2 linked regions of the Homo sapiens genome follow. The protein of the gene in region 1 purifies or fractionates together with the protein of each later gene. This does not show direct contact. Each region holds a gene or a part of one and is shown on either strand. Other genes may lie near its edges. The genes, in order: PAAF1 and DERA.

The links.
Region 2: the proteins of PAAF1 (region 1) and DERA purify together in Homo sapiens (affinity purification with mass spectrometry; one large-scale study listed by BioGRID and IntAct). This does not show direct contact.

The regions. Positions count from the first base shown.
Region 1 is NC_000011.10:73,879,923-73,883,749, forward strand, and holds part of PAAF1 (proteasomal ATPase-associated factor 1), read left to right. Parts: intron 1-3,827. UniProt on the Homo sapiens protein: Inhibits proteasome 26S assembly and proteolytic activity by impairing the association of the 19S regulatory complex with the 20S core.
Region 2 is NC_000012.12:16,035,558-16,038,159, forward strand, and holds the end of DERA (deoxyribose-phosphate aldolase), read left to right. Parts: intron 1-674; coding exon 675-824; intron 825-1,132; coding exon 1,133-1,189; 3' UTR 1,190-1,824; downstream 1,825-2,602. UniProt on the Homo sapiens protein: Catalyzes a reversible aldol reaction between acetaldehyde and D-glyceraldehyde 3-phosphate to generate 2-deoxy-D-ribose 5-phosphate. Participates in stress granule (SG) assembly.

The sequences.
Region 1 (3,827 bases):
ATAGTGCTGTGACTTGCCAATCATCTTAAAAATAAGGCCAGACGTGGGGGCTCATACCTGTCATCCACCATTCTGGGAGGCCAAGGCGGAGGATTGCTTGAGACCAGCCTGGGAGACATAGGGAGACCTCGTGTCTACAGCAAATAAAACTAGCTGGGCATGGTGTTGGGTGTCTGTAGTCCCAGCTACTCAAGAGGCAGAGGTGGGAGGATTGCTCAAGCCCAGCAAGTCAAGGCTGCAGTGAGCTGTGATTATGCTACTGGACCTCCTACCCTGGACAAGGGTAGCCGTGATCATGCTGCGTGGTCTCCTACCCTGGACCAGAAAGTGAGACCCTGGCTCTAAAAAAAGAAACACACACACAAATACACAAATATATATATATACACACACACATATACATATGTATACTTAACATAAAAATTCAAGGAAAATACTGTATTTTATTTTACCTATTTTATTGTGCTTAATTATGTTCAAAAATCCTATTCTAACTGCTTGAGCTAGGATTGTGCCACTGTACTTCAGCCTGAGAGACAGAGCAAAACCCTGTCTCAGTTAAAAAAAAAAAAAAAAGCCAGGTGCGGTGGCTCTACTAAAAAAAAATACAAAAAATTAGCCGGATGTGGTGGTGGGCCCCTGTAGTCCCAGCTACTCGGGAGCCTGAGGCAGGAGAATGGAGTGAACCCGGGAGGCGGGGCTTGCAGTGAGACCAGATAGTGCCACCGCATTCCAGCTTGGATGACTGAGCAAGACTCTGTCTCGAAAAAAAAAAAAAAAAAAAAAAAAAAAAAAGCCAGGCACAGCAGCTCACGCCTGTGATCCTAGCACTTTAGGAGGCTGTGGCGGGCGGATCACCTGAGGTCAAGAGTTTGAGACCAGCCTGGCTAACATGGTGAAGCCCTGTTTCTACTAAAAATACAAAAAATTACCTGGGCGTGGTGGTGCATGCCTGTAATCCCAGCTACTCGGAAGGCTGAGGCAGGAGAATCGCTTAAACCCAGCAGGTGGAGGTTGCAGTGAGTGGAGATCGTGCCATTGCACTCCAGCCTGGGCAACAAGAGCGAAACTCCATCTCTAAATAAATAAATAAATAAAATAAAAATACACAAAAGACCTACATTTTATTTTAACTAAAATATATAAACATACATTAAAATTCACCTTCTCTTTATTAGTCCACTTATTATTACAAGGACCTTGGCTATCTTGTAATAAACTGTAACCAAAAGGCACAGTTTCTTTAAAGCAAGGCAAATCTTTACTTAGGCTAAAAAAGCAATCTAAGAGCAAAACATCAACTGGGGTTTATATTTTTTTAGATCTTTTCCCTAATATTTTGCATTTTTCTTGCCGATACATACTATTAAAGCAGTATTTTTTAAACAGAATCTAGCTCTGTCACCTAGGCTGGAATGCAGTGGCATGATCTCAGCTCACTGCAACCTCCAGTCCTAGGTTCAAGGGATTCTTGTGCCTCAGCCTCCTGAATAGCTGGGACTACAGCTGGGACTACTACCATGCCCAGCTAATTTTTGTATTTTTAGTAGAGACAGGGTTTCACCATGTTGGCCAGGCTGGTCTTGAACTCCTGAGCTCAAGTGATCCGCCCGCCTTGGCCTCCCAAAGTGCTGGGGTTACAGGTGTGAGCCACTGCCCCCGGCCTAAAACAGTTTTAAAAAAACATTATCAAGTCTTTACAAAGCAACAAACTTAATGTTGTTGTTGTTGTTGTTGTTTTAAATTACCAAGCTACCTTCAACAACCAAGGAGTTTTTTTGTTTGTTTGTTTGTTTGTTTTTGAGATGGAGTCTCACTCTGTTGCCCAGGCTGGAGTGCAGTGGTGCAATCTTGGCTCACTGCAACCTCTGCCTCCTGGGTTCAAGCAATTCTCCAGCCTCAGCCTCCCAAGTAGCTAGGACTACAGGCGCGTGCTACCATGCACGGCTAATTTTTTGTATTTTTTTTTGAGATGGAGCTTTGCTCTTGTTGTCCAGGCTGAAGTGCAATGGTGCCATCTTGGCTCACTGCAACCTCCGCCTCCCAGATTCAAGCAATTCTCCTGCCTCAGCCTCCCGAGTAGCTGGGATTACAAGCATGTGCCACCATGCCTGGCTAATTTTGTATTTTTTTTTTTTAATAGAGACAGAGTTTCTCCATGTTGGTCAGGCTGGTCTCGAACTCCCAACCTCAGGTGACCCGCCTGCCTCAGCCTCCCAAAGTGCTGGGATTACAGGCGTGAGCCACTGTGCCCCGCAATTTTTTGTATTTTTAGTAGAGATGGGGTTTCACTGTGTTAGTCAGGATGGTCTCCATCTCCTGACCTCGTGATCCGCTCCCTGGCCTCCCAAAGTGCTGGGATTACAGGCGTGAGGCACCGTGCCTGCACTTTTTTTTTTTTTTTTTTGAAGGTAACTTGTAGATTCAGTTTTCTTTATGAATTGGAGTTAATGATGTCAACTCTTAAGGAGGAGGGTGGTTTTTGTTTCTGTGTGTGTTTATTTTTATTTTTATTATTTATTTATTTATTTATTTATTTTTGAGATGGAGTTTCGCTCTTGTCGCCCAGGCTGGAGTGCAGTGGTGCGATCTCCGCTCACTGCAACCTCCACCTCCTGGATTCAAGCGATTCTCCTGCCTCAGCCTCCCAAGTAGCTGGGATTTCAGACATGCGCCACCACGCCTGGCTAATTTTTTTGAGACGGAGTCTCGCTCTGTTGCCCAGGCTGGAGTGCAGTGGCATGTTCTCGGCTCACTGCAAGCTCCGCCTTCCAGGTTCATGCCATTCTTCTGCCTCAGCCTCCGAAGTAGCTGGGATTACAGGTGTCCGCCACCACGCCCAGCTAATTTTTTTGTATTTTTAGTAGAGACGGGGTTTCACCGTGTTAAGCAGGATGGTCTCGAACTCCTGACCTTGAGATCCGCCCACCTCGGCCTCCCAAAGTGCTGGGATTACAGGCGTGAGCCACTGTGCCTGGCCTGTTCTTATTTTTTTGAGACAGGGTCTTGCCCTGTTGCCCAGGCTGGAGTACAGTTGCATGATTATGGCTTACTGCAGCCTTGATCTCCTGGGTTCAAGAGATCCTCCCACTTCAGCCTCCTCAGTAGCTGGGACCACAGTCATGCACTACCATACCTGGCTAATTTTTTAAATTTTTTGTAGAGACAAGGTCTCACTATGTTGCCCAGGCTGGTCTTGAACTCCTGTGTTTATTTTTTAATACATGGGGTCTCGCTGTGTTTCCCAGGTGCTGAATTTGAACTCCTGGTCTCCAGTGATCCTCCCTCAGCCTCCCAAGTAGCTGGGACTCTAGGTGTGATCCACCATCTTGTTTCTTGTTTTTGTTTTTAAATAACAGCTTTATTGAGATAAAAATGTGTGCTATCTATGTGCTAGTTACTTTACATATATTATTTCTAGTATCACCCCCAAAACAGTCTATACCCATTAACAGTCACTTTCCACCCCCCAATCCTAGCAACCACTAGTTTACTTTCTAGCTCTGTGGATTTGCCTACTTTGGACATTTCATATAAATGGAATCATAAAATACATGGCCTTTTGTGTGACTTCTTTCACTTAGTATAATGTTTCTTTCTTTCTTTTTTTTTTGAGAGTCTCACTGTGTCGTCTAGGCTGAAGTATAGTGGCACAATCTCGGCTCCTCACTGCAGCCTTCACCTCCCAGGTTCAAGTGATTTTTGTGCCTCAGCCTCCTGAGTAGTTGGGATTACAGGCGCCTGCCACCACACCCGGGTAATTTTTGTATTTTCAGTAGAGACGAACGAGGTTTCGACATGTTGGCCAGGCTGGTCTTGAACTCTTG
Region 2 (2,602 bases), on another chromosome or scaffold:
GTTATGATCAACCTTAAAGACTACTGGACTATGAGGAGCCCCTCACGGTGTTTTTCTACTGCCCTTATGTAACTGGTCTGCCAGCTTTTTAGAACTGTGTGTGCCTGCAACTTAGAAAAAAAATCCCACAGTTAAATTGGTTAAAACAACTGTCAACTTTCCTTGCTTTTTTGCTGCCAGTTTGGTTAGGGTAACCTTGCAGCCTTGCTGATTCTGTCCTTTGATTTTAAATGCACGTGTCTTTTGAACCTCAAGATGAAGGCTGAGAAGTGACTCTACAGGCTTACTTGTGGAAATGTAGAATGAGTGGGCTTTGCTTTTGTGATCTGTTTTCCTATTTATTGACACCTTCCTTGTTTATTCCAGGTTCACAGCTATAGTCTAGATGGTGGAGGTTTATGACTTTCCAATAAGTGAAATGTTAATGAGGGTTATTAACCCTCACTAGTGTCTGTTTGGAAGTAGTGACATTCTTCCAAAAATCTTGGAAAAGTTGTTTTGTAGTGTGAATGAGCATGAGTCACTGATCTAAGCCCTTTCACTGGATGAAGTGAAAAGATTTTTTTTCAACAAAAGAGGGAGAGAGAGAATCAAGACTCTGATAAACATAGTACTATTTTTAAAAGAAATCCAATAACAATAAAGATTGTTCTATTCTCTGCCTTCCCATTTAGATAGGGTTTAAACCAGCAGGAGGCATCCGCAGTGCAAAGGATTCCCTTGCTTGGCTCTCTCTTGTAAAGGAGGAGCTTGGAGATGAGTGGCTGAAGCCAGAACTCTTTCGAATAGGTGCCAGTACTCTGCTCTCGGACATTGAGAGGCAGGTGAGTAATCATCTCTGTCTTTGGAATAAATTAACAAGTGTTTTTTGAGAAAGGAATTGAAAAGTCAAATTGAGAACTGGAGATAAAAACTCATCTGATTGACCTCATCCTACCCAATCCTCTACCTTTTCTTCCAAGCAAACCGCCATCAGAAGTGAGTAGGGTGGAGATTCTGCTGAAGCACATACTAGTGAGGCTTTCTAATGAAATGTTCATTAAAACTATTTATTATTATTTGATAGTATAATTATTAACTGATGTGTATAATTATAGAATGATTGTTAATTAAACTCTGCTTTTCCTCACAGATTTACCATCATGTGACTGGAAGATATGCAGCTTATCATGATCTTCCAATGTCTTAAATCAGTCACCAGTTCCAGAAAAGTTCTTTACGACAATGTTTAAAAATTATTTTTCTACGTAATTGCTAAAATTATTTAATTAAAAAATTGGGCAGTAGGTAACTGGCATTCCTCTCTTTAAAATTTCTACCGAACTTAATGGAATGGAAAAAGCAAACTCATCCACATGTGGTACTCATTTCAGGCACATCTGAAATGATCTTAATTACTAGAAGATCTGCACTATTAACTTTGTGAAGAGTTTCTCCTAAAAACTTTAAGTAAAATGTTAATGGTAGCTTTGATAACATCAAATTCTAAGGGAGAAAAAAACAATATTAAACCGCCCAAGCAGTGTGCCCTAGCAGAGGAAAATGCAACATCTCGCAAGCGCTGCTGTAACGACTTCAGGAGTCACTGATTCAGCACTAATTTCCTGCTGTGAAAACTCATCTTTCATTTTTGCCGTGGATAGGCGCTTTTATTAATTGTTGTCCTAATGAAATTTCTGACATTGTCATATACAACGATGAATATCATTAAAATTTTTAAAATAATAAAGTTCCTATAGTTTATTTTTTTAAAAAACTTAAAAATTGTTACAATACATAATGAAAAAATAATCCATTAAACATAAAAAGAGGTTTGATCAGTGAGTCTCTGAATCTCTCTAGTTGATTCCTTGGGTATATATCTGTAAAACACCCCAGTATGTTATTAATGAATGCAACTTATGTATGTGTTCTGAAACTTCAAATTTTCTGGTATAGTGAATGGAGGAAAACAGTAGATATTAACAGCACTTGCTGTGTAATAAGCTTTACATATATCAATTTATTTAACTCTCATTTAATCCTCATAATAGTAAGGTAAATACAGTTAAGGGTTTTGCTTCTTATAGCAGTAAGTACTCATGTAAACATCCTTTTATACAGACAGGGGAATGAGGAACAAAGAGTTTAAGCAACGTGCCAAAGGTTGCTCAAAATTAGCAGAGTTAAAAATCAAGCCCAAGCAGACAGGCTGGCTCCCAAGTGCGTGCAGTCACCCCCATGTCTCCCTGTCCCTCGGTACACATAGTCAGGTGTACATAAACAGAGCTCCCCATCAGCTGAGAGGACGGTAATCTGCCTCATGGTGGCTGGCTTTTTTGCTCTCTGTCTGTCCCAGCCTCGCTCTTCCGGAGATTCTGCTTGCTAGCACCTCTACCACGTTACAGAATGTGTTTCTTTGAATGGTGATTTTCATCAGGAGAGTCTTTTTCTTCCCTGAATGGCTCTCTAGTTGCTCATAAGCAAAAACCTGGACTGGAAGTCAGTTTTGGTTTCATCTTCTCACCTGCTGAATTCTAGCCTGAACTCTCCCTCTTTCTGACTTTGACTCCTTGGTCCAGTCAGTTCACATCTCTTGACCTCAGTTTCTTCATCTGTAAAG